Linked DNA regions of Homo sapiens: all the other regions are linked to region 3. Evidence: fine-mapped expression QTL. A gene starts in region 3. Each other region holds a variant in brackets. All regions are shown on one strand. Distances are between the middles of the regions.

What was found.
Region 1: its variant is fine-mapped to the expression of GNA12 in whole blood (TOPMed, PIP above 0.99).
Region 2: its variant is fine-mapped to the expression of GNA12 in left ventricle (GTEx, PIP above 0.99).

Annotation. Positions count from the first base shown.
Region 1 is chr7:2,766,411-2,777,155 of GRCh38, reverse strand. All of the region lies in intron 2 of GNA12 (G protein subunit alpha 12), which reads left to right. Among named protein-coding and RNA genes, the nearest start is that of GNA12, 73 kb to the left of the region's middle. RefSeq lists an enhancer at 4,180-4,229 and a silencer at 5,566-5,710. The variant G/A (reference allele first, on the strand shown) is at 5,719.
Region 2 is chr7:2,817,395-2,828,139 of GRCh38, reverse strand. The region is part of intron 1 of GNA12 (G protein subunit alpha 12); the gene reads left to right. Among named protein-coding and RNA genes, the nearest start is that of GNA12, 22 kb to the left of the region's middle. RefSeq lists enhancers at 3,037-3,679, 5,754-6,443, 6,444-7,133. The variant G/A (reference allele first, on the strand shown) is at 4,883.
Region 3 is chr7:2,839,188-2,849,932 of GRCh38, reverse strand. GNA12 (G protein subunit alpha 12) reads left to right here and starts at 5,625. Exons shown (of 4, transcript NM_007353.3): 1 at 5,625-6,080. The coding sequence starts at 5,772. RefSeq lists enhancers at 5,132-5,261, 5,244-5,538, 5,501-6,318, 10,458-10,627 and silencers at 5,432-5,761, 6,102-6,151.

The DNA.
Region 1 (10,745 bases), 73 kb after region 3:
AGCAATAACCTAGCCAGTGTCTCCCCTCAGTCCACTCCCATTCAGATAGGGTAGGGCTACACAGGTGCAGGACTAGGGGGCTGTATTTACCACCAGGAAGTACAGCTGCAGTCACCGTGAACCCCAGTTCTCCCAGATGGGGTAAAGGCACAACCCACCCCCATCAGGTCCTTGGAATTCCAGTGTAAGGTTTATTCTTATTTTATTATTGAGACAGAGTCTCTGTCACCCAGGCTGAAGCACAGCTGCACAGTCACAGCTCACTGCAGGCTTGAACTTTCAGGTTCAAGTGATCCTCCCACCTCAGCCTCCCAAAGTCCCTGGATTACAGGCATGAGCCACCTCTCCTGGCCCCGACGTAAGGTTTAAAAACAGTACAGTTTCTTGCTTAGGAACCAGCTCTGCTTCCAGCACTGGGGTTGCAAGACCTGGTCCTAGGATCACTGCACCAAGTGGGAGCAGGGTGGCCAAGCTGAGGTGATGCAAGGAAGGAAGAAAAATGTGTAATCCTTATGCCAGCCTGCTCCTCTCTCGGCAAGAATTGTGTGGTCACACCAGCCTCCTTCCCAGCCCCTCTTTCCCTGATCCACAAAACAGGAACATCGAATGGGGACGTCCTTTAGCCGTTGAATGTGGGCCAGCCCTTCATGCTTTCATCGCCCCTGTCTTAGCCAGGGTTTTAACTCCCCGTTCCGCTGCTCTGTCAGACTCACTCCGAGGAGGATGCGTCTCTGCCCGTTGTTGGACACCGTGGGATGTACAGTGTGTCCCCTGGTCTGAGGAAATGACGGTCGGTGTCCAGATCCGAGCAGTGTCTTCTGTTCTGTTCTTTCTATAGCACTCTGAGCACTGGCCTCTTCCACCAGGCAAGCAAAGCCCAGTCCAGAGTCAGTGTTCACTCTGGTTAAGACCCATTTGTTGGCTGGGCGCGGTGGCTCACACCTGTAATCCCAGCACTTTGGGAGGCTGAGATGGGAAGATCACTTGAGCCTAGGAGTTAGAGACCAGCCTGAGCAAGGATTGCTGAAGCCCAGGAGGTTGAGGCTGCAATGAGCGGTCTAACCTGGATGACAGGGTGAAACCCAGTCTCATAAAAAAAAATCAAAAGACCCATTGTTAGCCCCCAGGGCTATACTTGCCAGCTGTGTCCAGGGCCTTCCCACCAGGGGAGCTGCCCCATAGCCACCGGCAGTTTCTGTCTCTCCAGCTGGCAGGCAGAATGGCTGCATTAAGCCTAGCTGTACGGACCTTTTCCACAGTACGGGTCTGGGCCCTGTGCCCCTGGGTAACCTGTCCAGGTAGTGTGAGGGATGAAGGGAGGGGAGGACTCTGCCAGCTCTGTGGGAGGCTCCTTAGGTGATTCTGAGCCTGGCCTGTATTGAGAGCCACTGATGAGCCTCTGAGGTCTCTTCCACTTGTGACGTGATTCGGAGCCTGGCCCTCTGCTTTAATTCATAGGCAGAGTTTGATGGCAGATATCTTCTCCTAAGAAAGCCCGTCACGTTAGAACAGGCTGTTGGGTAGGACACAGGCGTTTAGTATCCAAGTTTCGCAGATGCCCATAGACCAGGCAGCTCTGTTTTGCTTCTGCGTTTATGAAAAGAGCTGGCAGAGTGCTTCGGCTCCAGGCCTTTTCGAGACACTGGGCACGACGTTCCTCCTGAGCTGCTGTGGCTGAGATAGAAGGGATCAGCAATGGAGGCTTTATTTGCAGATGATTTTCCTCCTCTCGGTTTGTCGTTCCCACTCTTCGTCTTCCAGAACCTTTTTAGACCCCATGACTTCAATCCTCATCACCCAGGACATTCAGGCTGGCTCTGTCTCCTTCCCATCAACTTAATATGACCGTATCTAACCCTAAATGAGGCTGCAAAATTAAAAGCAGCATACTAGCACCAGAGAAAGGATATCTTAAGCCTATTCAAATCAAACCTCAACACCCTGGAAGCTGGCGCAGCGGCTGCCTACAGAAAGGAGAGCTAGGGAGCTGAGACACTGGTTTCTCTAGCGTCCTCCTCCCCTGTTACGAATTTGGTACTCTGTGCATGTATTGTCTATCCAAAAACTTGAAAGATGTTAGTCATCCTCAGTAGAGGGGAAGTAACTCATCACATAGTGAAAAGTCCAAATTGTTTAACTCTTTAAGCCACGTCTGGTGCCACCAAATTGGGAAGGGATGTCGGTAAATTAAATTGTGCAATTCATACTCTTTTGAGAATATTATTAATATTGACTCTCATATCTTGACTGCCTGCTGTGCCAACCACTGTGCATGAGTCAACCCAACCCCAGGTAAGAAGGTGGCTCAGTAACACAGATAGCTGCGTAAATATGTGACAGTGTTTAAAAGGGGGGAAAAACAAGTACCCTGGGCTTTGTACTTATGTTTATTCTTAGACGTGCCTGATTTTATTTACCTTTGAAAGAAGTTATATAAAAAGGAAGACAAACCTGTAAGTGCAAAAGGAATGAAGATTCAGTGACACGTGTTGACTGTAGGTTCTCAAACCTTGTACTTTTTTTGACCCTTATATCATTAAAGCATTCGACACATTAGCAACCTGGACCCCCCCTTTGCCTCGGCAAGCCCATCTCCTGCTCCCCTCCTCTCTGTCACTGCTGCAGGCGCACTGGCCTTCCTGCTGCTCCCTGCACACTCAGGGCCTCCCAGCGCCATCAGGGCCCTTGTGCTTGCTGTTCCTTCTGCCTGGAATGCACTTCCTCCTTTATCTCATCAAGGTTTTGACTCAGATGTTATCTTCATGAAATCTTACCTGACAATCTTGATTAAAGTCAAAACCGCACCCACCACTACCTATTACCTTTCCCTATTTCATTTAAAAAATGTTTTTATTGGAGAATTACATATATATACACACATATATATGCATGCATGTGTGTATATATGCATATACATGTATAGAAATAAAAGTGCATCTATATTAACTCAGTTTTCACAAACTGAGCAGATTGTGTGACCTGCCGCCAGCTCAGGAAACAATGACCTGTGCCCCAGAACCCCTTTCATCTTCACACCACCTTCTGCTCTCCAGAAGTAACCAGTTCTGACCGTGAACACCAGCTGTTCTGTAGAATGGGTATTTCTGCGTTGCTGCTTCATCTGTGGCCTCACACGGTATTTACTCCTGTGTTACTGGCTCCTTCTCGTCGCCATTTCGTTTTGTGCGGTTCTTCCAATTCTGCGGCACGTTCTTCCTTGTTGCTGCATGGTAATTCCATTTTGTGAATGTCCCGCAATTTAGTTCCCTGCCCTCCTGGTGATGGGCGTCCGGGTAGACGCCAGCTCAGCGTCATTACAAAAATGTTACTGTAGGTATTCAAGAACCTGTCTTTTGGTGAAGAGATGTAGGCATTTCCCTCAGGGCTGTCCAGGGGTGGACTTGCTGGGGCATCCAGGTGTGCCTGGGTTCAGTGTTCATGGATTTTTCACAGTGTTTGTATTTGTGCTCTACCAGCAGAGGCCAAGTTCCCATTACTCCACCTCATCACCAGTGCTTGTCCTCTTTTTCAAATAGCCATTCTGGTGGCCGTGTAGAGGTATCTCATTCTGGTTTTGTTTGTTTGTTTATTTTTGAGACTGAGTCTCACTCTGTCGCCCTGGCTGGAGTGCAGTGGTGTGATTTTGGCTCACTGCAGCCTCTGCCTCCCGGGTTCAAGCAATTCTCCTGCCTCAGCCTCCCGAGTAGCTGGGATTACAGATGCCCACCACCACGCCTGGCTAATTTTTGTATTTTAGTAGAGAAGGGGTTTTGCCATGTTGGCCAGGCTGGTCTCAAACTCCCAACCTCAGGTGATCACCCATGTCGGCCTCCCAAAGTGCTGGGATTACAGGCGTGAGCCACCGCCCCCAGCCTTGTTTATTTGTTTTAATTGAAGTATAATTTCTGTGTGCAAAATGCACAAATCTTAGGTGTATACAACACAATGAGATTTACGTATGTATCTACTCACACAGCCACCACCCACGTGAAAGAACATTTCAGCATCCAAGAAAGTCCCTCCCGCTGCTTCCCCATTGATACCACTCCTCCTGGTGACCACGCTAGTTTCACTTCCATCACTGTAGATTAGTGTTTTGCCTGTTTTTGAAGTTTGTTTAAATGGAATCGTTTAGCTGGCTTCTTTGCTTAATGACTGAGAGATTCATCTGTGTTGCTACGTGGATTGGTATTTTCTTCTTTTTTCTTTATAGCCTTCCATTAAATGAATACACCATAATTTATTTCTTCTCCTGTTCACAGACATGGTGTTTGTTTCTCGTTTTTGGCTACTGTGAGTAAAGCTGCTTTGAACATTCTTGGACAGGTCTCTTAATGGATATATGCACTGATTTCTCTTGGAAATATACCTAGGAGTGGGATTGCTGGGTTTGCCAACTATTTCTCCAAACTGGCCGTACTGGTTTATAGTCTCTCCAGCAGTGTGGGACAGTTAGTCCACGTTCTAACCAACACTTGGCATTGTCCTCTTGATTTTAAGCCTCCTGGTGGGTATCAATTGATGTTTTACTTTGCATTTCTAAGTAAGAACTTTCCTGACTAAATAAGTTTGGCACCTTTTTCTTTTTTTTTTTTTGAGATGGAGTCTCACTCTGTTGCCCAGGCTGGAGTGCAGTGGTGCGATCTTGGCTCACTGCAAGCTCCGCCTCCTGGGTTCACGCCATTCTCCTGCCTCAGCCTCCCAAGTAGCTGGGACTACAGGTGCCCACCACCACGCCCGGCTAATTTTTTGCATTTTTAGTAGAGACGGGTTTCACCATTTTAGCCAGGATGGTCTCGAGCTCCTGACCTCGTGATCCGCCTGCCTCTGCCTCCCCAAGTGCTGGGATTACAGGCGTGAGCCACTGCACCCAGCATGTTTGGCACCTTTTGTACATCTGTTGGCCAGTGGGATATCCTCTTCTATAACAGGTTTGTGCAAATCTTTTGCCCTGTTGGGTTGTTGGTCATTTTCTTGGGAATTCTCGATATGAGTCCTTTGTCAGATTATCCGGAATATGTAAAGAACTCTCAAAACTCAAGAAAACAATTTTTTTAAAAGGACAAAAGATTTGAACAAAGAAGAGATTCCTGAAGCAAATAACACATGAAAAGATGCTCAGTCGACGTCATCAGTCATGACACACATGCAGTTGAACACCGTGGTGAGACACCACATGCTCTCCTAGGAGGCTGCCCTTTGGAAGGCGACCACCCAAGGCACAGTGAGGGCGGGGGTGGGAACTCAGGCTCTCACACACCCCTGGTAGAAATGTGAAATGGTACTCCTGCTTTGGAAAAGCGGGGCACTTTCTTAAAAGTTAAACATACAATTATCACATGAGCTAGCCCTTCCACATGTAGATATTTACCAAAGAGAAGTGAAAATATTTGTCCACACAAAGACTTGCACACACATGTTTATGGCAGCTGAACATTGGGAACGTGGCCATCAACAAGCAGATGGATGAACAGACTGGGGTGCACCCTTCTGTGGGGATACTGCTCAGCCAGGAAAGGGAGCACCTGGTAACCTGCAGCATATGGGCGAATCTGGAAAGAATTGTGCCAAGTGCAGGAGGCCACACAAAGAAGGGAGTGTCCTCTAAGATCTGACTTACATGAGAATCTAGAATATGCAGACCAACATGGAGGGATAGATGCCGACCACGGGTTGCCTGGGCAGGAAGGGAGTGCAGGGGAGGGGAAGGGCTGATAA[G/A]GCCACAGTGGGAGTTGTTTGGGTGTTTGCTCATGATCTTGGCTGTTATGATGGTCCCACAGCTGTATGCATATGTCAGAAGTCATCAGACTGGGCAAGTTCACTATGTGCGGTTTCGTTTTTTTGGTTTTTTGGTTTTTTTTGAGTGGCAGGGAGTCTTGCTCTGTCGCCCAGGCTGAAGTACAGTGGCGACATGTCAGCTCACGGCAACCTCCACCTCCCAGGTTCAAGCGATTCTCCTGCCCCGGCCTCCCGAGTAGCTGGGATTATAGGTGCCTGCCACCTCACCTGGCTAATTTTTGTATTTTTAGTAGAGACGAGGTTTCGCCATGTTGGTCAGGCTGGTCTTGAACTCCTAACTTCAAGTGATCCACCCACCTCAGCCTCCCAAAGTGCTGGGATTACAGGTGTGAGCCACGGCGCCTGGCCTTTTCTTTGATTTTAATAATTTGGTTTACTAAGTCTGTTCCCTGTCCATTTGCTCTGCAAGGAGTCATCAGAGCCTGGCGCTTGCAGTACCCCCAGGTCCACGTTTAGATGATCTTAAAACATTGCCATAATCTTGCACGATGGCCTTGCACTTAGGCAGTGCCAGTATTCCTATGGTATACAGTGAAGGGGCATTCGGTTTCAGTAACTCTGATTTGTAATCGTCCTACGTGGAAACACAAAGCAACAAGCACAGGATCCCATTAGCTCTGCTGCCCAGTGAAGCATCCATGTTGCTTTGTTTTTGTTTGTTCTTTTTCTTTCTTTCTTTCTGTGTGTTGTTTTGTTTTGTTTTGTTGTTGTTATTGTTGTTGAGATGGAGTCTCACTATGTGGCCCAGGCTGGAGCTCAGTGGCTTTTCACAGGCACGCTTATCGTAGCTCACTGCATCCTCAAACTCCTGGGCTCAAGAGATTTCCCCCACTTCAGCCTCCTGGGTAGCTGAGACTACAGGTGTGCACCACCACGCCTAGCTAACTCTAACTTAATCTAATGCCAACTCCAATGGACAAGCATTGCCCTGTCACAAGCCTAGCTGAACTATGTCAGAATTGAACTCTTTGAGCTTGATATGGTTCTAGAGGCTATTGAGCCTCAATTTGAGCCTAAATTTAAAATTGTGTGATCATTTAATTTAATTTCCAAACGGGACATGTTTATAAATAAAACAAGACCCTATTAAACAATTTTGCCAAGATGATTGACTCAAATTGGGACTCTCCAGGGCAAGTGGGGCATATGGTTATCCTGTTTATAGTATATTATGGCAGTGAACCTCAGTAAAGTCATACATTGTAGGTTTGTTTATTTGTTGCTATCTATGCAGTTGAATAATGTTGAGGATATATTTTATTTTCCTCACAGTACCAGGCCAGTCTATAGCTTGAATTGAATCTTAGCTCTGCATGTCACTATGATCTATTTTATTGTAACTTCCTATTATAAACCTTTAATTTTATAAAAGCAATTTTGAAAAAGTACTTGCCCCCCCATGATTTAAAAAAACAAAAACACTTAGACTTAAAATGTAATGACATATCACTTTTCACCCATCAAATTCAGAAAAAAATTCAATTGATAATATCCAGTGTGTTAAGGGTATAAAGAAGTGGGTATCTTAAACCCTTGTTCATTAGGATATAAATTGGTACAACCTTTTTGGGAGAGAATTTGGCCAGAGCTGTGTTTTTTTTGTTTGTTTGTTTTTGTTTTTTCTGAGACAGAGTCTCACTCTCTCACCCAGGCTGGAGTGCGGTGGTGCGATCTCGGCTCACTGCAAGCTCCACCTCCCGGGTTCGTGCCATTGTCCTGCCTCAGCCTCCTGAGTAGCTGGGACTATAGGCGCCTGCCACCACGCCCGGCTAATTTTTTGTATTTTTTTTAATAGAGACGGGGTTTCACCGTGTTGGCCAGGATGGTCTCAATCTCCTGACCTCGTGATCCGCCGACCTCGGCCTCCCAAAGTGCTGGGATTACAGACATGAGCCACCGTGCCCAGCCGGCCAGAGCTGTTTTAAAAAATTAATATGGATACTCTTTGACCTAGCTGTTCTATTTACAGATACCTAGCTTACAGACATAATTATACATGTCCCAGAAGTGGTGTGCATGAGGATGGTTTCTGCAATGTTGATGGTAGTAGCAGAAATTAAAACTACGTAAATACCTGCCAGTGATGCTGTTTAAGTAGAATACCAGATGGCTATTAGAAGGAATGAAGGTCCACACAGAAACAGCTCTAAGGTGGCTGGGCATGGTGGCTCACGCCTGTAATCCCAGCACTTTGGGAGGCCAAGACGGTTGGATCACTTGAGGTTAGGAGTTCGAGACCAGCCTGGCTACCATGGTGAAACCTTGTCTCTACTAAAAATACAAAAATTAGCTGGGTGTGGTGGTGCACACCTGTAATCCCAGCTACTCAGGAGGCTGAGGCAGGAGAACTGCTTGAACCCAGGAGGTGGAGGGAGCCGAGATCAGCCCGGACAACGGAGCGAGACTCCATCTCAAAGAAAAGGAAATATATCTAAGGCATGGTAAGGGTAAAAACCAACTTGGAAAACAATCAATGTGTAGTAGTTTATCCCATTTATATAAACCAAACAAATCATTAAAGTGTAGATTTCTCCACATACAATATACACATATTAAATACAGAAACAAAGGTAGAAAAGTGTATGCCAAGTTGATAACAGTGATTAATAGTTGTGGGAATGAGTGGGAATGAACTCTCCTTTATCCATAGGTTTACTGTTTTTTTTTTTGTTTTGTTTTGTTTTTTTTTTACCTTGAGAGCATATTCACCTGTTACCTAATTTTATAACTGAATTAATTTTCTAAATGTACGTAACTGCATTATAACCATTTTGAAAGAAAACTTATTAGCATTAGGTTTTACTCTAACCTTTGTTTTCCTGAGTGTTACATCCATGATTTTAAGGGCATGTCTCAGGACTCTAGGATGTGATTTCATTTCACGCAGTCCTCGAATGCAGTTAGTGTTTTTCTGAGTTCTCTGAAGCAGAGAAATACTAGGAAAAACGTAGCTTGCTAAGCCAGGACCTCAAAAAGGAAGGCTACTGATCTTCACTGGATGAAGTGACATGACTTTGAAGCTGAGAGATCCAGGTTTGAATTAGCAATTCCTTAGTCACTACATTTGCTGTATTTAAACTTGGAAAACAGAAACCATTTCCGATCACTTATTTGGCAGCAAAACCTAATCTAACTCAATTTGGACTTGTTTAGTAGCAAAGCCTGGCCTCACATACCCGTGGCCATTTATAGTCTCCATTAGGTCTGTAAGCGGTAGCTCATGCCTGTAATCCCAACACTTTGGGAGGCCAAGGCAGGTGGATAACCTGAGGTCAGGAGTTCGAGACCAGCCTGACCAATATGGTGAAACCCTGTCTCTACTAAAAATAAAAAAATTAGCCAGGCATGGTGGCATGTGCCCGTAGTCCCAGCTACACAAGAGGCTGAGACAGGAGAATTGCTTGAACCCAGGAGGCGGAGGTTGCAGTGAGCCGAGATTGTACCACTGCACTCCAGCCCGGGTGACAGAGTGACTCCGTCTCAAAAACTAAAATAAAATAAAATATAGTCTCCATTAGTACAACTGTTCACACACACAAATCTATGTTATTGTAGAAATATTCTCAGATTTTATTTACGATGAGGATTTGGTAATGCATAGCATATGTACCATGTTATCTTTCCAAAATCTGAAAGTTTCTGAATTCCAAAATATATCTGGTGCTAAGGGTTTAAAGGTTAGGAGTTACAATACAAATGAAGAAGTAAAAAACTTGAAACGCGCCAGCCAAGAGTTGATTTTAAATAAGAAGACAGGGAAACAGTTGTTCTTGTGTGTGAGAGAGGGTACTATAAAGGGTATTCATGTCACAGTTGTTGATGGCAGCAAAACACTGGAAATGCCCCCAGGTGGCTATCGAAAGGGTCACATAAGTGATTGTACATTTATTCAGTGGAATGCAGCATAGCTATTTTTTTTTAAGTACCACAACTCTTATACTGTATACAAAAAATAACTCAAAATGGCTTAAAGACTTAAACATAATCACGAAAACTAAAACTCCTAGAAGAAAACATAGAGGGAAAGCTTCAAGATACTGGATTTAGCAGTGATTTCTTGGGTATGATACCAAAAGCCTAGGCAACAAAAGAAAACATAGACCAATGGGAGCACATCAAATGTAAACATTTTTGTGGGTACAGGGACACAATCAACAGAGTGAGAAGGCAGCCTATAAAACGGGAAAAATATTTGCAAATCATATATGTGAAAAGAGTTAACATTCAGAATGTATGAAGACTCCTACAACTCAACAAGAAGCAAAGTTAAATAACCCAATTAAAAAATGGGCAAAGGGCTTGAATGGACAGTTCTCCAGTGAGGATAAGCAAGTGGCCATCTAGCCTATGCAAAGTATCTCAGTATCCCTGATGGTCAGAGAAATGCAAATCAAAATCACAATGAGATACTACCACACATCCATTAGAATGGCTACTATCAGAAGAAAAACAAAATAACAAGTGTTGGTGAGGAATGGAGAAACTGGAACCCTTGTGCACTGTTGGTGGGAATGTAAAATGGCACAGCCATATAGTAGGAAGAGACCCAGATGCAATCCAATAGTGCCTCCTCGGGGTATTTATCCAGAAGAATGGAAAGCAGGGTCTCAGAGATATTTGCACACCCATGTTTATAGCAACTTTATTCACAATGCCTAAGAGGTGGAAGCTGGCCAGGTGCGGTGGCTCACACCTGTAATCCCAGCACTTTGGGAGACCGAGGTGGGTGGATTGCTTGAGGTCAGGAGTTCAGGACCAGCCTGGCCAACATGGTGAAACCCTGTCTCTATTTAAAATACAAAAATTAGCTGGGCATGGTGGTGGGTGCCTGTAATCCTAGCTACTCAGGAGGCTGAGGCAGGAAAATCGCTTGAACCTGGGAAGCGGAGGTTGCAGTGAGCCAAGATGGCACCACTGCACTCCAGCCTGGCGACAGAGCAAGACTC
Region 2 (10,745 bases), 22 kb after region 3:
GAATATTTTTAGAATGTGTAAATATCTGCCAAGGAGACCACAACATCTTCGGCATTTTCTTTTTTAATTGGAAACTTGTCTTGTTTCTTAATTCTTGGTAACTTCAGGAAAAGAGCCACCAACTTGCCTGAGTTCTTTCCTGTTATCTGGAGCAAATTAGAACTCTTCTGGTAAAGTAAGACGCCCTTTTTCTAGTCTTTCATTAATTAAAAAAAATTTTAAATAAAGTATCGGGGGTAGGGAGAATGTTTCAAATGTAGGTGTTTTTGAAGTAGGTTAAAAGACTTCAATCTTGAATTGAGTCTTCTAAAAAAATTTGCGCGATGTTTTTGTAGTTAATTAGCAATACCTCATGATAGATATACATGAATATTTTCTTTGGTATGTTTTTATAATTAGGTGATTCTTTCCTTCATTATAACTCCTTTCTCTGAGTGGTTCTGACATTGGTCCTGCCATCTGCCCTATTCTAAGTCATGTCCTGGTGTCACTGCAGTCAGGAGTCCTGTTCTGTCCTCTGCACTGCTCACGGACCAGCCCAGCCCCACTGTCCTCAGCGTGGTTATGCAGAAGCCACTGTGGTTCCCTTCCAGTCAGTTTGGTGGTTATTCCCTCAGTTTAGGTGCCTTCAGTCCGGGCCACAGTGCTTGAATTCTCACGCGACATCACAGACTTCACCTGACCAGCTGAAGTTTCGTTAATACAACCTTTCTGTTTTCACTCTGTTTTTTAAAATAATCGAGGTAAAATTCACATACCATACAATTAATCATCTGGAAGTGTACATTCAGTAGCATTTAGTACATTCACTGTGTTGTTCACCCACCACCTCTATCAAATTCCAAAACGTTCCAATCACTCCAAAAGGAGATCTGGACACGTTAGTAGTGACTCCCCATTCCCTCCTTCTCCCGGCCCCTGGCAACCACTAATCTGTTTTCTGTCTCCATGAATTTACCTATTCTGAATATTTCATATAAATGGAATCATATAATATGTGACCTTTTGTGTCTGGCTTCCTTCACTTTTTTAAAATTAATATACTTTATCACTTAATTTTAGGTTTACAGAAAAACTGAGCAGAAAATACAGATTTCCCACATACTGCCTGCCTCCCCCACACCAGTTTTCCCCTGTGAGTAACATCTTGCATTAGTGTGCTAGGGTTGGGAAAGTTGTGAGTGAATATGAATATATTATTAACTGAAGTCCATAGTTTGCATTAGGGTTCACTCGTTGTGTTGCATAGTTCTGTGGGTTTTGACAAATGTCTCCACCGTTATGGCATCATTCAAAATAGTTTCACTGCCCTAAAAATCCTCCTTGTTCTACCTGTTCATCCCTCCTTCCCTGTCTCCCCTCAACCCCTGGCAGCCTCTGAGCGTTTACTGTCTCCATCGTTTTTCCTTTTCCAGAATGTCCTGTAGTTGGAATCAGGAATATGTAGCCTTTTCACATGGGCTTCTTTCACTTAGCAATACATATTTAAGGTTTCTGTGTCTTTCCGTGGCATGTTAGTTTATTTCTTTTCATTATGGAGTTGTATACCTTTGTATGGATATACCACACTTTGTTTATCCATTTACCTGCTGAAGGACATTTTGGTGACTCCTAAGTTTTGGCACTTATGAATAAAGCTGTGGTAAACACCTGTGTGCAGGCTTTTGTGTAGACATAAGTGTTCAACTCATTTCAAGTGCAGTTAATTGCTGGATTATATGGTACAAGTATTTGCTTTTGTTGGTTTTTTTTTTTTTTTTTTTGAGATGGAGTCTCACTCTGTCACCCAGGCTGGAGTACAGTGGCGTGATCTCGGCTCACTGCAACCTCTGCTTCCAGGTTCAAGTGATTTTCCTGTCTTAGCCTCCCAAGTAGCTGGGATTACAGGCATCCACCACCAAGCCTGGCTAATTTTTTGTATTTTTAGTAGAGACAAAGTTTCACCATGTTGGCCTGGCTGGTTTCAAACTCCTGACCTCGTGATCTGCCCGCCTGCGCCTCCCAAAGTGCTAGGATTACAGGTGTGAGCCACCGCCCCCGGCCCGAGTATGTTTAGTTTTGTAAGAAACTGCCCAACTGTCTTCCGGAGTTTGCATTCCCAGAGCAGGGAATGAGAGTTCCTGTTGCTCCACTTCCTGGCTACCATGTGGCATTGTCTGTTTTGGATTTTAGCCGCCCTAAGAGGTGAGGAATGGCATCTCAGTATTTTAATTAGCAGTGCCCTAATGATATATGGTGTGGAGCGTCTTTCTATGTGCTGGTTGTCCCCTGGGTGGTGGGAATGCTGGGATGAACGCTGGAATGAGCGTACTCTAAAGACTTGTTCTCTTCAGCTGCCGCAGCTGCTTTGTGTCTGCGGCCCCACCACAGCCGTTTCCCTGGCTTCTCTGTCCTGCATCCTCCTTCTTTCAGTGTCCTGGACGCAAACGCCAGCACACGTTTTCTCAGGCATTTTTCATAAGGCTGCTTTCCTGTTTACAAAACTATAGCGGCCCTCAGCCTCCCATCAGCTCGATACCTTCTCAGCCAGAAATGACCACAGTAGCTGTATGATGGCACAAACGCACTTCTCCTCCTCTCTGAGATAGCTCCCTTCTCTCCAGCACCTCCTTCCCTAGTTTACATCTTCTTCATGGCGTCTTCATATTATGTGAAATGAAAACACACCCCTTTAGGGAAAAGAGGAAAGCGTCTTCATACACTGCTGGGGGCGCACATGCTGGGAAGCTTCTGTCCGCCCCTTCCCGCCCTCTCTCCTGCTTCTGTCAGCTCTCTGCTCTTGGGGTGACCTGTATAGATTGTAGCAGCGAGTGTTGTGCTTTCTGGCTTCTGGTTGGCCAGTGGGAAGTCCTGGCAAGAGCTCGGAGGGAGGGAGGGGAGAGAGTGAGGTTCAGTATTTCTTCTCCCCTCCCACGCCCCAGGATTCCTTCTGTCTTGTTTCTCGGGCTTCCCCCACACCTTTGTGATTAGTTCCTAATTTGAGTGTCCTGCTTGTTTCCTGTTGGGTGCCTGGATTTAGGATGTAAATTGTTGTAACCTGTCTTTTGGTGGCAGTCTGATGTTTAGAGATGGTCATGGAGTCTTGGGTACTACCCAGAGCGAGATCTAGGAGGAGGCAAGCCAGGTGTCTGTCCACCCGCAGGTGCAGACCTCACCCTCACGGGGCCTGAGGGAGAGGGGCCTCCTCCCTTGTCTTTAGTCGGAAAGTGGTTCTTGGACTTCCTGTGCCTGTGGTCACCTGGCCATGCTGTTCAAATGCAGATTCTATTCAGTAGGCCTGGGAGGTCTGTGAGCTCCTAGGTGATGGCTGTGCTGCCACCGGCCCTCAGCTACGCTTTGAGCAGCAGGGATTTTTTTATTGCGGTTTGATTTGCATTGTTAAAATCCTGGAATGACCTAATCGCCACCTGTTGGGGCTGACTGATTGAACTGTGGTGTGTGATGGGCACTACACAGCTTTTAATAAGTCGGTGAATCAGCTGATATTTATCGAGCACCTTCTGTATATCAAGTGCCCGGGATACATCATTGGAAACAAATGCTTGCCATGTAGAGCTTACATTCTAGTGTGGGAAACAGACGATCCACAGGGTAAACAGGCACGTCTTATGAAATGTTAGAAAGCAACAAGTGCTGGGGGCAGGAGAAAGCAGGGCGAGAGCGTGTCCATGTCAGGGGTGGCAGGGAGCCGCCTGCAGAGGTGATGGGGAGAGCACCCCAAGTGCAGAGGCCTCCGCAGACCCAGAGGAGCCAGTGTGATGGCTGTGTAGTGAGGGAGGAGACCCCTGGATGGGCAGAGGCGGGTGCAGGCCACTGGGAAGACGCGGGCCTTAACTCTGTGTGTGAGGGGCTCTTTGTCCCTGAGGATTTCTGCAGAGGAGTGGCAGGATCTGACTTGGACATTCACGGGGTTGCCCTGGCCACCCTCACTGAGGGAGACCAGGTGGACGTGGGGGCAGTGAGAGGCTGTCATCCTGATCTGTGGGACCAGCGTGTTAGGAGTGGAGATGCTGGGAAGCGGTCAGATCCTAGAAATGTTGTGAAAGTGTTGATGTTGAAAATACCATTTTTGAGACAGGCAGACATGGGTGTGATCTGTTCAACTGGAAAAGGAGTCAACTATCTTTTAGGAACCATGTTTTGAATGTGAGCAAAAAGAATGGTGGTGGCATATGGTAATGACACTAACATGTAATGAGCGTTTCTCTCTAATTAAAGGGGATTTATTTTTATTGCCCTTATCTCTGTTTTCTAGAATGCGCATTATTTTCATGGGAAAAAGAGTCTTAGAAAAGACATTGCTTCTTTCTCTAAGTAATTTTACTGCATGATCTTTATTCTATGAAGTTTACTCATTTGCATTGGGTTTTATAGATATTAGTAGGTAGTTTGTGCTTTATTATGTCTGCAACATGCTTTTTTAATTTTTAATTTTTTTTTTAGCTTGCCTAGCCAACTAGAATGAAAGATCCTTTGACATTGAGTATTGCATTTTTATTTTTCCTGTATTCCAGCTTGTAACAGACACTTCCTAAGTGCTTATTGAACGAATTGTTCTAATTCTTTTAAGCAACGACTGGCCTCTTCCCGAACAGTTTTATTTTTCTAAATCTGCAGAGGGTTATTATTAGCATGCTTGAAAGACCAAAGAATGATTGTCTAATTCTTGAAGGTTCTCATTTGTTCTTCCTTATGCCCTCTGTTCCTGTTACCTTCCCCAAGCACTCCTCCTGCATATGCCGTCAAAGTCCTGAATTGGGGCTGCGGTTGAAGTTGGAGTGTCAGAACACGCTTTTGCCCTTACTGCTATCAGCCTTCAGTCAGATAAGTAGCCTTTTTATATAAATAGTTCCCTCTTGTCTCTGTAGAGCTGGGGAAGGCG[G/A]GGTCCCTTGGGTTTGTGTGTATGCTGGATGAAGCAGACAGAAGGGTTCTTCAGGGTATGGGGCCGTCTCTGGACTACACCAGGAAGCCTGGAAAAGGCCCTCCAACAAAGCCTGCCATAGATGATGCCTCGGACCCCACGTTTTTAGTTACAAATAATATACAAATAGTTACTGAGAATTAAAGTTACTTTCTTCAAGGCCATCAGAGTGGTTGGTAACTGTAATGTCCCTGAAAGACTCAGTGTCTTTAATCTCCTAAACCATGTTGAATTCCAGTAATGGGAGGCCAGGGAATGGGCAGAGGACTGATAGTGAATCTAGGGAGCACCTTTTTATCACATCTAGGAGGGGGCTGAGCAGACTCTCTTAGGGACTGAGGGGGTTGAGTGTTTATCTCCTTCAACTCCTTTCCAAGTCATTGTCTTTAAATCTTTCTTTTCTTTTGGAAACGGAGTCTTACTCTGTCGCCCAGGCTGGAGTGCAGTGGGGCGATCATAGCTCGCTGCAGCCTTTACTTTCTGGACTCAAGTGATCCTCTCAGTTCAGCCTCCTGTGTAGCTGGGACCACAGGCACGCACCACCACGCCTGGCTAATTTTTCTGTAGAAACAAGGACTCACTATGTTGCCCAGCCTGGTCTCAAACTCCTGGGCTCAAGCAGTCCTCCTGCCCTGGGCTTGCAGTCCTTTTTCTTTTTGTTGATTGAGGCTGATCTCACGCTCTTGGGCTCAAGCAGCCCTCCCACCTTGGCCTCCCAAAGTGCTGGGATTACAGGCGAGAGCCACCACGCTTGGCCCTTCAATCTTTATCAGGGTTTGAGAAGGGGACTTCCATAAGATATGTCTTAGATTGGGGAGGTTAAGAGTGTGCCAGGTCTCAGGCCCACCTAACTCAGAACTACCACTCTTAGTTACTGGACTGTCTACAGATGCTAGTTCCAGTAGGTAGATCTCTGAATTCTGAAGAAATTGCCCAGTGAAGCCTGACATGCAAAACAACCACTCCAGTCGCTGCCGCTGTATGGTTGAAAACGTACGAAGAACAACATCTCGGAGGAGGCATAGCTTCCCACAGAAGCTTCAGAATTTGTAGGTTTAGATAAAAAGTTAAAAGAGAATGGGAAGGCTAAGCACATTCTAACGTTTTTTAGCTAGGTTTGTTAAGAAATGTTGGTGGTAATCTGAATCACCCTTGTTGATGTGTATATCACATTTTACATAGTTCTAGTCATCACATCCTGGAATGTCAGCCTGGGCGGGCATGCGAGGGCCTGGTCTGATTCCCCTGTGTCCCTAGGGCCTGGCACCATGGCAGCACATAGTAGGCATTTGAGTATTTGTTGGATGCATAAATAAATTCTTGTAATAAATACAGGAAAAAGGTCTTAGGGAACTTGAAAGCCAAATTTTAATATTGATGATCTTGTAAACAAAGTATTTTTCATGTTTTAGTAACATGAAGGTCAGGATTCCACTAAGCAGGAATATGGTGTAACCTCATGTTTCCTGGCAACTAGCCCTTTGCTACTAGACTTGCCACAGGAAGGGAAAGAGCTTACCTAGCATTGTTCATCACTGTCTTGCTAAGGTGGAGGAAAACGAGGAGCAGGGAGCTGAGAAAATAGAATAACTGCAGGAGTTTCTCTTGTCCATAGGGCACACCGTTTGGGGTGAATTGTTTTGCTTGGGGCCACCCAGTGAGTTCGTTTGGAGTTGCAAGCCTCGCTTCCTTATATAGAGTCATTGATACAATTGGGGAGTTTCCTGAGTGGATGATTAAAGCAGTTCTGTATTCATTCTTCTCTGTAAGTGCCAACACCTGGCCGTGATTTCTCTGCGGTCAGCTGGAGACTGACATCCATTTTCTCACAGTATTTACGAGGGAAGGGAACCCTGGTTGGTGAATTCATTCTCATGGTCTTTTTGCCCGAGTCAGCAGCAAGACAGTCACCTTGCCACGGGAGGCAGCGTGTCCCTGTGTTGAACAGGCGGAGAGTCTCCCCTCAGGATACAGCAGGAGTGATTGGAATGATTCTGTTTCTCAGCCTGTCTTGCAGAACATCTGTAATCTAAGCGTCATCACAAAAATTCTTAAGCCAAGAATAAGCAGAACATTAACCAGAGAATAATTGATTGGCATCTTTCACCTAGACAACATTTTTGTGAAATGGGAGTGATTCCTGTGGAGTTTTGTCCATGTTGATGAAAACATGGATGTAGGCCGGGCGCGGTGGCTCACGCCTGTAATCCTGGCACTTTGGGAGTCCAAGGCAGGAGGTTTCTTGAAGTCAGCAGTTCAAGACCAGCCTGAGCAACATAGTGAGATCCCATCTCTATCAGAAATTTTTAGAAATTAGCTGGCCATGGTGGTGCATGCCTGTAATCCCAGCTACATGGGAGTCTGAGGCAAGAGGATGGCTTGAGTCCAGGAGCTTGAAAGCTGCAGAGAGCTGTGATTGCACCACTGCATTCCAGCCTGGGTGACAGAGTGAGATCCTGTCTCTAAAGTAAAAAGTTTTAAAAGACACAGTTGGAGTTTCCTCTTTGGAAGATTACAGGGCAGAGGCCAGGGTGGTCAGTGAGTCAGGAGCTGGTGACTGGCCGGTGGGGCAGGTCTGGACAACAAGCAGCTGCCACACTGTGTGTCACTTCCGTGCTCTGTGCTTTACAGCGCTTGGGACTTTCTTTTTCAATTTTTTAGCTTTTTTAATTTTATTTTTTATTTTTTTGTAGCGATAGGTTTTGCATGTCTCCTGGGCTAGTTTCAAGCGATCCTCTCACCTCAGCCTCCCAAAGTGCTGGGATTACAGGCATGAGCCACCATGCCTGGCCTCAGCTTAAAAAAAAAAAAAAAAAAGCTTTATTGAGCTATAACTCACATATCATACCATGCCCTCATTTAAAGCCTACAATTCAGTGGACTTCAGTCTATTTACAGAGCTGTGCAGCCATCACCACAGTCAATTTTTAAAACATTTTCATCACCCCAGAAAGAAACCCTGCAGCCACTGCACATTTTCCTCCTGCCCCAGCCCCAGCCCCGGGCGGCCACCAGCCCACTTTCGACACCGTGGATTTCTCTCGACGCTGTTGATTTGCCTTTTCTGAACATTTTATGTAAATGGAATCATACAGTATGTTGTCTTCTGCGACGGACTTCTTAGCATCGTTTCTTCAAAGTTCATCCATGCTGTAGCGTGGCATCGTCATCCCTCTAAGCGGCCGAATAGCATTCCCTTTTGCTACGCCCCGTTTTGTTTATCCGTGCCTCAGTCAGTGGCATCTAGGTTCTTTCCATCTTTTGTGTGTTATGAATGATGTTGCTATAAACATCCATGTGCGGGTTTTGGTGTGAACATGTTTTCTCTTGGGTGTATTCCTAGGAGTGGAATTGCTGAGTCAAATGGTTGCTTTATGTTTAACATTTTGACGAGCTACCCGAGTGTTTCTGAATTGGCCGCAACATTTCTGTTCCCACCAATATAACGTCTTTGGGGTCTAACCGTGCTTGTGTTTATCTGTCCTTTGAATTCCAGCCATCCCGTTTTCGGTTTGCCTTTCCTCGATGGTGAATGAGGTATAGCATCTTTTCATGTGCTTATGGGCCATTTGCGTATCTTCTTTGGAGATATGGCTATACAGATCCTTTGCCCATTTTTTTAATTTGGATTATTTGTCTTTTATGCAGACTAGGGAATTTCTTAAGGGGACTGCTTTTGGTTATTGTGTTTCTCACTTATAAACTCACCTTTCAGTAATGAGTCACATACACCTCCACAGCTGTTTTGGTTTTCTGTTGCCACTGTAACAAATTACCACAGGCTTCGGGACTTAAAACATTTATTTGTTAGCTCCTAGTTGCTTGGGTCAGAGGTCTGGGCACAGTGTGGCTCAGTTGGTTGCCCTGAGTGTCATGAGACTAACAGGAAGGTTCCAGCCGGACTGTGTTCCTTTTTGGAGGCTCTGGGAATGCATCGGCATCCAAGTTCATTCAGGTTGTGGCAAGGGTTCAGGTCCTTGCAGCTGTAGGACTGAGGTCCGGTTTCTTTTCTGACCTCCCTCGGCTCCTGGAGGCCTCCCTCCAGTCTTGCTTGCAGCCCCTGCAACTCAGAACCAGCAGCGAGCGGCTCACAAGGAACCTGCCAGACTTTTCCACCTTCCACATCTGCTTGTAAGGACTGGTGACTCCATCAGGCTCGCAGGGTAATCCAGAATAATCGCCCTATTTTAAGCTCAGCTGATTGGTAGCCTTAATTACCTCTGCAAAGACCTTTCACCTAGGTTCCCAATTGATGAATACCCCCGGCCATCTTTAGAATTCTGCCCGTGCCACGGGCTTGTGGCCTGCCTTACAGCCTTCTAGTTACAGGGGACCATGAAAGGGTTGTGAGGCTGGTCAGAGAGAGTAAGTGAAAACGGCAAGCGAAACCTGTGGGAGAGGCCACTTTGAGTCGCCTCCCTCCCTTGTTCGTTTGTCCTTTGCTTTTTTTTTTTTTTTTCAAGTTAGGGTCTCTGTCACCCACGCTGGAGTGTAGTGGCGCGATCTCGGCTCACTGCAACCTCCACCTCCTGGGCTCAGGCAATTCTCATGCCTCAGCCACTTGAGGAGCTGGGACTACAGGGCTACGCCACCATGCCCAAATATTGTTTGTATTTTTATTAGAGTCGGGGTTTCACCATGTTGCCCAGGCTGGTCTCGAACTCCTGACCTCAGGCAATCTGTGTGCCTTGGCCTCCCAAAGTGCTGGGATTACAGGCATGAGCCACCGCACCAGGCTTCCTGTTCTTTATTATAAGTTGTATTTTCTTTATTACAAGCTGTAGTTTGTCTAGCCTCTAATCAGTGGTTCTCCGTTGGAGAGACTATGCTCCCCAGGGGGACATTTGGCAGCGTCTGCAGGCGTGTTTGGTTGTGACACTGATGGGTGCCGCCGGCATCTGATGGTTGGAGATGCTGCTGACTGTCCTGCAGTGTGTGAGGCGCTCCAAAACAGAATTCCCCAGCCCCCAGATGTCAGTACTGATGTGGTAAACAAACTTTGTTCTATGTCAGATGGCCAGTTTTTTAATGGCAGAATTACACTATTATGTAAATAATTGATGTTCTTAATGATGACTCCCCCCAGAACCTACAAAACCCTGACATGCCTGTTAGCTGTGTAGGGAGTCATTCCGTGTTCATTGAATTAATTTTAATACGTTATAGTGAACTACAGTCCCACTTGAAACATTAAGAGCAATCTTACAGTGTGCTAGTACTTTTTCTTCTTTTTTTGTTTAGTTTCCTAACTATGAAAGCAGGTGTTCTAATACATTTGGAACTAATAATTCATGTGTAGTGTACTTATGGAGACTTAAAAATAAAACTAAAGGGAGGGAAGGAGGAATGGAAGGAGGAGATGATAATTAACAAAGAATTCCTTATTCACAATTAATAGATGACAACATTTGTCATAACTTTAGATGTTTCTTCTATGTTCCGTTCTCCTCCCCAGTCCTAATACTGGAACCAAACTGCTTAGACCAGAATCCTGAGTGACCTTGGATCAGCTGCATTCATTCATTTGTTCCACAAACATCTGAGTGCCAGGGGCTGTTTTCAGCATTGGGAATAACAGCAGTGGCCAAAAGTCAGAGTCCATGTTGTCTGCGTAATGGGCAGGTTAGGGACAAATAATGAGTAAGTGAAGAAATATATAATGTCTCCACAGAGAGAGCTGAGGGGCTGGTGTGGGCAGAGCAGAGTGAGTGAGGGCGAGAGAGCAGGTGGACATGGGGTGGCTGGGGTAAGGGAGGATATACAGTCTTGCAGGCTGTGTAAGGATTCTCATTTAAAGTGGAGTATGGGCCGGGTGTGGTGGCTC
Region 3 (10,745 bases):
TCCATTCATTCATTTACCATTATGTGAGATATCCTACTTTTTCTTCTTCTCTCTGGCACCTCGGTCCCCTTAAGTCTATTGACATTTTCTTATTCTCACTCATAGCTCTTTGGCTTTCAGGGGGAGCCTTTAGGGTCTCCTATGCAGTGGAGAAAGGTAAGGTAACAGGCAGGATGCCACTCCTGTGATGAGCACCAGGAGGAAGGGAAGAGGTCTCAGAGCTGAAGTTGTTGGCAGCTCCCATGTTCAGGGATGGGGGAAATCTCCCAGTCCTCTCACCCCACAGAGCTCTCAGACTGTACTAGTTCGTTTTCACGCTGCTGATAAAGGCATACCTGAGACTGGGCAATTTACAAAAGAAAGAGGTTTAATGGACTCACAGTTCTATGTTGCTGGGGAGGCCTCACAATCATGGTGGAAGGTGAAAGGCACTTCTTACATGGCGGCAGATAACAGAAGAATGACAGCCAAGTGAAAGGGGTCTCCCCTTATAAAACCATCAGATCTCGTGAGACTTATTCACTACCACAAGAACAGTCTGGGGGAATCATGGGGGAAATCACCCCATGATTCAATTATCTCTCATGGGTCCCTCCCACAACATGAGGGAATTATGGGAGCTACAATTAAAGATGAGATTTGGGTGGGGACACAGCCAAACCATATCACCCACATTCTCCCCAGGCCAGAAAGGCCCTACTAGGACCTCAAAAGGAGACTGCATGCATGGGACCTAAGGGGATCCTGTTCCTATTGGGAATCCCAGCGTCTTGGGCCCTATACCAGGCCTCTGAGTTCCTGATCCCCTCACTGCTGGCCCACTGGAGAGTGAGAGTCCCTGTGGCTGCTTCCTTTCCTAGAGATTTCAGGTGAGCTTACCGTGTCACATGAAGGTTTCAGGCCCTGCTGTCGGACTCCCCCTTCCTGGCTTCTCCTTAGCTCCAGAGGTGGAACTGAATACAAGTTGGGAGGAACATTCAGTCTATTCCTCCTACTCTCTACCAATTTTTTTTAACAGCTGGTAGACCAAGAAAGCATGTCTGTGGGCCATCTATTTACACATTTTAGTCTTGCATATTCTTTTTAGGAATAATATGTTATTTTGTTTGTTTTTTGAGACAGTCTCGCTCTGTTGCCCAGGCTGGAGTGCAGTGGTGCGATATCAGTTCACTGTAACCCCTGCCTCCTGGATTCAAGCGATTCTCCTGCCTCAGTCTCCCAAGTAGCACGTGCCTCCACACCCAGCTAATTTTTGTATTTTTAGTAGAGAGAAGGTTTCACCATGTTGACCTGGCTGGTCTCAAACTCCAGATCTCAGATGATCTGCCCACCTCGGCCTCCCAAAGTGCTAGGATTACAGGCGTGAGCCACCATGCCTGGCCAGGAATAATATGTTATTGTACTTATATGGATGTACCTTAATTTATTTGACCAGACCACCTCCCAGGTTTTAATTTTTAATATCATACCATACAAGGTATTGTCTTTATAGATTCTTCCCCAGCCTGCCACTATTATTCTAAATTTGCAATACCCGATTCCCAAAGCTCCACGATGATAATAATAACAATATGACCATTTACTGAGGGCCTGTTATGTGCTAAGGTCCAGTTCTAGGACCTTATCTGTATTAACTTATTTAAGGTGTAGTACAGCTTTATTTTCATCCTGATTTTACAGACAAGGAAACTACGTCTCAGAGATACTGTATGACTTGTTGAAGGTCACACAGCTGGTAGGTGATGGAGCCAAACTTCAAAGTTCTCATGTTTTTCTCCATCCTATTATACACAGAGAATGCTGTGTGTCAGACTTCCAGTTCGGGGTTTGCAGTGTACTAACCATACTTCCCTTGCCAGGAGAGCTTAGCCACCTGGATTCAGATACTGGTAAGGCAGTCACCTTTCCCCAGCAGTGTAGAGAGGGCAAATGAGATAATGCACCTGTAAGTACTTCAAAACTTTTAGCATGCCGTACAAACAGAAGGGATAATTAAGAGATTATTGTGGACTATGCAGATAACCTTGTTTATTTAAAGCACCTTAGCCCATTGACACGTGTGGAGATGTCCAGAGACCTGGTCAAATCCTCAAATCGAATATTGCCGACAGCAGAAGAATTTCTCCCATAAAATGCCATAATGTGTCATTTAAAAATGTAAGTAACTCTTGGCCAGGCCCGGTGGCTCACACCTGTAATCCCAGCACTTTGGGAGGGCGAGGCAGGTGGATCACTTGAGGTCAGGAGTTTGAGACCAGCCTGGCCAATGTGATAAAACCCCACCTCTTTTAAAATACAAAAATTGGCCAAGCATGGTGGTGTGTGCGTGTAATCCCAGCTACTCAGGAAGCTGAGGCAGGAGAATAGCTTGGACCTGGGAGGCAGAAGTTGTAGTGAGCCGAGATTGCACCACTGCACTCCAACCTGGGCAACAGAGCTGCATCACAAAAAAAAAAAAAAAAAAAAAAAAAAAGAAAAGTAAATAACTCTTTAAAATGTTTAATGATTACATAAACACAAGGCATAAAGCTATAAAGATTTAAAAAAAATAGAGACAGAGTCTTGTTCTGTTGTTCAGGCTGGTGTGCAGTGGTACAATCATAGCTCACTGCAGCCTCAAACTCCTGGACTCAAGCAACCCTCCCACCTCAGCCTCCCACCATACCTGGCTTATTTATAAGGATTTAAAGTTAGTTGTGAGTGCTGTCTGGAGCACTTGCTGAAACTGTTTTGTGAATCAGTTTTTCTTAATTTCTTAAAACTGAATGAGGAATAAACCCTGTGTGAACTGGATGAGCCAAAAACCTGTTCTGAATTCTAGTCCACTCTTTAGTGATTCAAAATTCCCTATTTCTGTCTCAGAAACATTGCTTTCTTTGGATTCTCCAATTTCTCCTCCCTTCTATTTCAATACTAGTGTTTGGCCTTTTTTTTTTTTTTCTTTTTTTTTTTTCTTTTTGAGACAGAGTCCTGCTCTGTTGCCCAGGCTGGAGTGCAGTGGTGTGATCGCAGCTCACTGCCACTTCAGCCTCCTGGGATCAAGCAATTCTCATGCCTCAGCCTCCTAAGTAACTGGAATTACAGGCGTTCACCACCATGCCTGGCTCATTTTGGTATTTCTAATAGAGATGGAGGTTTCACCATGTTGGCCAGGCTGGTCTCAAACTCCTGGCCTCAAGTGATCTGCCCACCTCAGCCTCACAAAGTGCTGGGATTACAGCCTCACAAAGTGCTGGGATTACATGGTGTGAGCTACCATGCCAGACCTAGTATTTGGCCTTCCCGTTTTTGTTTTTTTTTTTTTGTTTTTTTGAGGCAGAGTTTTGCTCTTGTTGCCCAGGCTGGAGTGCAATGGTGCGATCTCGGCTCACTGCAACCTCCGCCTCCCGGGTTCAATCAATTCTCCTATCTCAGCCTCCCCAGTAGCTGGGATTACAGGCGCCCGCCACCACACCCAACCAAGTTTTGTATTTTTTAGTAGCGACAGGGTTTCGCCATGTTGGCCAGGCTGGTCCTGAACTCCTGACCTTAGATAATCTGCCTGCCTTGGCCTCCCAAAGTGCTGGGATTACAGGCATGAGCCACCGTGCCCAGCCATATTTGGCCTCCTATGGGAGGTCATTTCCACAAACAAGCAAGACTTTCTAATCATTTTCCAAGGATTACAAAATCTTGACTCATAAGTGATACAAATTCATGGCATGATTTGTAGTATTTGTAGCAAGTGACAAATAATACATATTATGTGCATTCAAGGTTGTCAGGGAGTTGGTTTTTGTTTTGTTTTGTTTCTGAAACAGGGTCTTGCTCCGTTGTCCAGGCTGGAGTACAGTGGCACGATCATAGGTCACTGCACCCTTGACCTCCTGGGCTCAAGTGATCCTCCCACCTCAGCATCTCAAACTGCTGGGACTGTAGTTGTGAGTCACCGTGCCCAGCCTTCTGGGGAGTTTAGATCTGTGACTAAGCAAAAAGAACAAATCTGGAGGCATCACTTTACCTGACTTCAAACTATACTATAAGGCTATCGTCACAAAAACAGCATGGTACTAATATAAAAATAGGCACAGAGACCAATGGAACATAATAGAGAACCCAGAAATGAAGCCAAATACTTACAGCCAACTGATCTTCAACAAAGCAAATGAAAACAAAGTGGGGAAAGGACAGCCTATTCAGCAAATGGTGCTGAGATAATTGGCAAGCCACATGTAGAAGAATAAAACTGGATCCTCGTCTCTCACGTTATACAAAAATCAACTCAGGATAGATCAAAGACTTAAATCTACAACCTGAAACCATAAACATTCTAGAAGATAACATCGGAAACATCCTTCTAGACGTTGGCTTAGGCAAAGACTTTGTGACCAAGAACCCAAAAGCAAATGCAACAAAAACAAAGATAAATAGATGGGACTTAATTAAACTAAAAAGCTTCGGCACTGCAAAAGAAATAATCAGCAGAGTTAACAGACACCGCACAGAGATTGGACTTTGGGGACTCAGGGTAAAAGGTGGGGGGTGGCGAGAGATAAAAGACTACACACTGGGCCAGGCGCGGCGGCTCACGCCTTTAATCTTAAGGGATACCTGAGCTCCTTCTAGGAGGTTCTGATTCAGTAGATCTGGGAGAGTCAAGAATCTGTAATCAGCTGATCTCTATCAAGAGCTGATTTTGGGCTAGCTCACGTGCTAAGTGTTTGGTAAGTTCATGTTCTCAGTTTATATCTTCATGACGATTTGAGCAATGTCAAGCCATAACCAATGTCGTCAATGACACCCCCGTTTTACAGATGAGGAAACGGAAGCTAAGAACATCCAAAAGGGTTTGTTGGGGGGGGTGGGGAAAGCTGCTAAAAAAAGTTATGCAACTAGTACACCTAGTAACTGGTCGACTGGAGATTCCAACTCAGGCCCAGCAACTCCAGACCCCACTCTCTCAATCACTGTGAGACATAAGACTTTTGGGGGAGCTTCTGGTGATTTTAGTGATTAGTCAGCTTTTCGCAAAGCCTCCTAGAAGCCCATGCCACTCTCAAAGGGTGCATGTGTTTGAAATTTATGGCCCATCCCCCTCCAGTGTTTCTGGAAGGAAAATAGTGTAGAAACAAGATCATCGGAGGGAATACGACGAGCAGCTGAACCTCTTATCAGCATTTCCCAGCCTTTGGGCTACTCCGCGAGGTCCTGGTCTCACAGGCGGACCCAATCTGGGAACCAAGGGAGAATCTTTCTGTACACCTGGCACTTCTCGTCACGCCCCGTCCCCCGAACACCCAATCCAAAGCCCGTTGGGCACGTCTGATGTCCACTCAGAGCAATTATAATTGGCCATGGCGGACGATCGCTCCGCCTCCCGGGCGACCCCGCCTCCCTTTCATTCTGAAAGAAAGAACCTCAGCCTGGGCGTCCAATGAGAAGCGCCTTCACCTCAAAGATCCCGCCTCTTTCGGCGTCGACCCCGCCCCGAGGCCGGAAGGGATGCCCGCCTCCCTTGGCGAGATGAGCCAATCGAAGGGCTCTCACGGCCAGATGGACGGCAGCCGGCCCAATCCGCCGGGCCTCACGCGGCGCCGCCCGCCCCTCCGCCGGGCCCGAGTGGCGGCCGGGCGACGAGTGCGGGCCTCGGAGCGACTGCAGCGGCGGCGGCGGACGCGGCCTGAGGCGAGCGGCGGGGCGTGGGGCGGTGCCTCGGCCCGGGCTCGCCCTCGCCGGCGGGAGCGTCCATGGCCCCCGGGCGCCGGCGGGGCGCGGCCGCGGCCTGAGGGGCCATGTCCGGGGTGGTGCGGACCCTCAGCCGCTGCCTGCTGCCGGCCGAGGCCGGCGGGGCCCGCGAGCGCAGGGCGGGCAGCGGCGCGCGCGACGCGGAGCGCGAGGCCCGGAGGCGTAGCCGCGACATCGACGCGCTGCTGGCCCGCGAGCGGCGCGCGGTCCGGCGCCTGGTGAAGATCCTGCTGCTGGGCGCGGGCGAGAGCGGCAAGTCCACGTTCCTCAAGCAGATGCGCATCATCCACGGCCGCGAGTTCGACCAGAAGGCGCTGCTGGAGTTCCGCGACACCATCTTCGACAACATCCTCAAGGTGACGCGCGCCCCCCGCCCAGCACCTGCACCCAGGTGGGCCGGGGCGCTAACCCCCGCCCCGGGCCCCTCCGTGGTCCGCCGCCGCGGGCGGGGACCCCTGGGGCGAGGATGCTGGATCCAGCCCCGCCTGCACCCCACTCCCCCCCGACCCATTCCCCGAGGCCTGCTGGCGTCGTCTCTGCCCCACCCCGTCTCGCCCTTTTTGAGATGGGGTCTCGCTGTGTTTCCCAGGCTTGAGTGCAGTGGCGCCCTCACAGCTCACTGCAGCCTCGACCTCCCAGGCTCAAGCCCTACTCCCTCCTTAGCCTCCCGAAGTAGTGGGATTACAGGCGCGCACCACCAGCCCAGCTAATTTTTAAGTTTTTTTTTGTAGAGATGGGGTCTTGCTGTGTTGCCCAGGCTGGTCTCAGTCTCCTGGCCTCAAGTGATCCTCCTGCCTTGGTCTCCCTCAAGTGCTGGGATTATAGGCATGAGTCATGGCGCCCGGTCTGCCTCTGCCCTCTCTAGGGTGCCTGGGGACCGTGGGAGTGGGAACTCGGGCCAGCTTCTGGGGATGGGGAGTGGGGGCTTGGCACTTAGCCCCCTCCTGGATGTGCCCTAGCAGAATGGTATCTGTCCATTTCCCACTGGAAGATTTGTGGGATAGGAGCCCAACCGGCCGTGCCCTCCGGCTGAGCTTAGAAGAAGAGCAGTGGAGACTGGACGGGAACCAGCCATGAGTCTCTTTTTACTTTTCTGTTTTTTTAGAAAGGCTCTCACTCTCTTGCCCAGGCTGGTCTCAAGCCATCCTCCCACCTGGGCCTCCCAAAGTGCTGAGATTACAGGTGTGAGCCACACTTTCTAATACGAAAACTTCAAATGTATACAAAAGTAGAGAAAATAGTAGATTGACTGTAAAGTACCTACAGCCCAACTAAAGCAGTCATCAATTCTGTGCCAATCCTATTCACCTGTGCCCTCCCCATGGTCTCCAAGCAAATCCAACTTTGTGTAGTTGGATTAGGAAACGTTTTAGGATGTATATGAGTGGCTAAAAGATGAGGCCTCCATGTAAAAACACAACCGCAGTACCATTAGCAAACCTAAACATTAGTAATAGCTCATTATCACCAGATATCCAGTGTTCAGAATTCCTCCATTGTGGCATAATTGTTTTGTGTGACTCGACATGCATTGCAATGAATCTCCAGATTCTCCTGTCTCTTGCTTCCTTTTTTCTCTTCGCCATATTTGTGAAAGAAGCTGTAGAAGTCGGCCAGGTGTGATGGCTCGTGCCTGTAATCCCTGCACTTTGGGAAGCTGAGGCAGGAGGATCACTTGAGGCCAGAAGTTTGAGACCAACCTGGGCAACACAGCAAGACCTCAGTGCCACAAAAATGAACACATTAGTTGGGCATGGTGGAATGCACCTGTAGTCCCAGTTGCTTGAGCGGCTGAGGTAGGAGAATTGGTTGAGCCTGGGAGGTTGAGGCTGCAGTGAGCCATGTTTGGGCCACTGCACTCCAGCCTGAGTGGCAGTGAAAAAAAATAAAAGAACCATAGAGTTGATAAAGTCGGGGTTCCAGTCTCTCAGTACCGTGAGCCTGTGTTAAAGGGCCTCAAGGAAGATCTGGAGGAAACTGATGATGAGGGAACAGTGCAGCCTTGCTTACACCTAGATAGCGTCCTTTGTCCTCCCTCCCTTTTTCCTTCCTTCCTTTCCTTCTTTTCTTTCCTTCCTTTCTTTTCTTCCTCCCTTCCCTTCCTTCCTTTCCTTCCTTTCCTTCCCGCCTTCCTTTTCTTCCTTTCTTTCTACCTTCCTTCCTTTTTTCTTTTCTTCCTTCCTCCCTTCCTTTCTCCCTCCCTCCCTACCTCTCTACCCTTTCCTTGTCCCCTCACCACTTTTTCCCCAGCCCATTTTGGGGAAACCAAGTTAGAGGCGAGGACAATCATCTCAAAGCAGAGTCGGAGAGAAGTTTGCCATGCCAGAAAACCTGCCTGGAGACTAGGTTTTATGGTGCCTGGGAGATTTTAAATTTAGCAAAGCCCCGTAGAAACCTATCGGGTACATTTGTATCACTTACCCATAAGGACTCCTGCCTCAGCCCTAGAGATGAAGTGACTCCTTCCTGGGGTCTCTGTGCTGGAATCCTGGCCTCCAGACTTCCAGGCCAGTATTCGCACTTGACATACTTCTCATGGAAATGTTTCATTTTAATAGAGCTCCTTTAGGATTGTGAAGGGAAGAAAATAATTTGATAAAACACCCTTTTTCATTTTACCTCTTTCCAAGCCTCTCGGTGCGTCAGAGCTCTGGTCAGATACTTCGTGAACTTTGAAGACTAGGTGCCCAGCTTAGCTCACTGGGAGCGTCTGTGTTCAAGTGCATTTGGCTGTCTCAGGGCCTGCCCTGTAACTTCTCTGTTAAAGATCCTGATTTTATTGTTGCTGCTTGCCCAGACCTCAGAACCAGGCAGGCATAAAAGTATAGCAGTTTGACTGTCTCTAGTTTCTTCCAACTCAGTAGATGGAGAAAGTATTTGGAAACATAGAATCTGAAATCTAAATCCCTGTATGAAGTGCGTGTTAGAAAACTCAACCTCCTGGCAGGAGAATGGGGTGAACCCGGGAGGCGGAGCTTGCAGTGAGCCGAGATCGCACCACTGCACTTTAGCCTGGGCAACTCAGCGAGACTCCGTCTCAAAAAAAAGAAAAAGAAAAAAAGAAAACTCAACCTCCTGATGCATAGAAACACTAACTTCCACTGACTTTCTTATCAGCAGAAACAAAATGTGTTAACTGGTATCCTAGTTCTTCTTTCCAGCTTTGTTTTTTACTAATTATAGTTCCATATTAAACTCACTTCATGTGTCGTGACCATTTCAATAACAAGTTAGAAATTCATCTTTCAATTTAAAACCAAAAATCGTTTCCTCCTCTTCAGCCCCCACCCCCGCATTTTTATTCGAACAGATCACTTTGAGAAGAGACTATTTTATTTTTTTATTTTTATTTTTTGAGACAGAGTCTCATTCTGTCACCCAGGCTGGAGTGCAGTGGCAGGATTATGGCTCACTGTGGCCTTGCGTCGCCTCGTGGGCTCAAGCAATCCTCCCACCTCAGCCTCCCAAGTAGCTGGGACTGTAGGTGTGTACCACCACACCCAGCTCATTTTTGTAGAGATGGGGTCTCACTATGTTGCCCAGGCTGGTCTTGAGCTCTTGAACTCAAGCGAACCACCTGCCTCAGCCTCCCAAAGTGCTGGGATTACATGTGTGAAATACTAAACTTGGCCAGGGAAGGGACTTTAAATAAATTGCTCTGCAGTGCCTTTAGTACTGGACATTTGAATGATACCATTTAGAATAATACTTGTGGCTATATAGAGGGTTAGTGTTGACAGGCTCCTTCTAGAGCACGGACTGTGTGCTGTACACATCGTGCCTGATCCTTTCAAATATGGTGTTGAATTTTCATAATGCTTCAGATGGTATTACCTCATTTAGTGAATGAGGAAATTGAGGATAGAGACATTAAAATCTGTTCAAAGTCAGCTACCTAATTAGCAGATGGCAGAGCTAGGAACTAAACATGCCTTTTTTAAAAATTAAACTTTTGATTTTGAGATAATTCTGGAGTCCTATGCAGTTGTAAGAAATAGTAGAGATCCCACATACCCTCTGCCAGCTTTCCCTCAGTGATTATGTTCTGTAGAACTAGATAGCACAATCTTACAACCAGGATATTGACGTCGATACAGTCACGATACAGAGCCTTTCCATCAGAGAAGGACCCTTCATGTTGCTCTTTTGTAGCCACTCTCTCCCCTTCCTGTCCCAGACCCTGGCAGTGAATAATCTATTCTGTTGTTGTTTTGAGACAGTCTTGCTCTGTCGCCCAGGCTGGAGTGCAGTGGCACAATCTCAGCTCACTGCAACCTCCGCCCCGGGGTTCAAGCGATTCTCCTGTCCCAGCCTCCCAGGTAGCTGGGATTACAGGCGCCCACCACCACGTCCAGCTAATTTTTGTGTATTTAGTAGAGACGGGGTTTCACCATGTTGGCCAGGCTGATCCCCAACTCCTGACCTCGTGATCCACCCGCCTCGGCCTCCCAAAGTGCCAGATGTGAGACGCCGTGCCCCGCCTCTGTTCTTTAATTCGATAATTTTGTCATTTCATACATGTCATGGCCAGGTGCAATGGCTCATGCCTGTAATCCCAGCACTTTGGGAGGCCAAGACAGGCAGATTGCTTGAACCCAGGAGTTCAAGACCAACCTGGGCAATATGGTGAAACCCCATCTCTACAAAAAATACAAAAATTGGCTGGGTGCAGTAGCAGGTGCCTGTAATCCCAGCTACTCAGTAGGCTGAGGCAGGAGAATCACTTGAACCTAGGAGGCATAGGTTGCAGTGCACAGAGAGCACGCCACTGTACTCCAGCCTGGGCGACAGAGCAAGACTCCATTTCAAAAACAAACAAATTAGCCGGGTGTGGTGGTGCACACTTGAACCTGGGAGGCGGGTGGGAGGATCACTTGAACCTGGGAGGCAAAGGTTGCAGTGAGCCAACATCGTGCCACTGCACTTTATCCTGGGCGACAGAGTAAGATCCTGCCTCAAAAAAAAAGAAAAGATTTTCCTGTTGTCTCTCTTTTGTTGATTTCTGGTTCGACTCCACTATG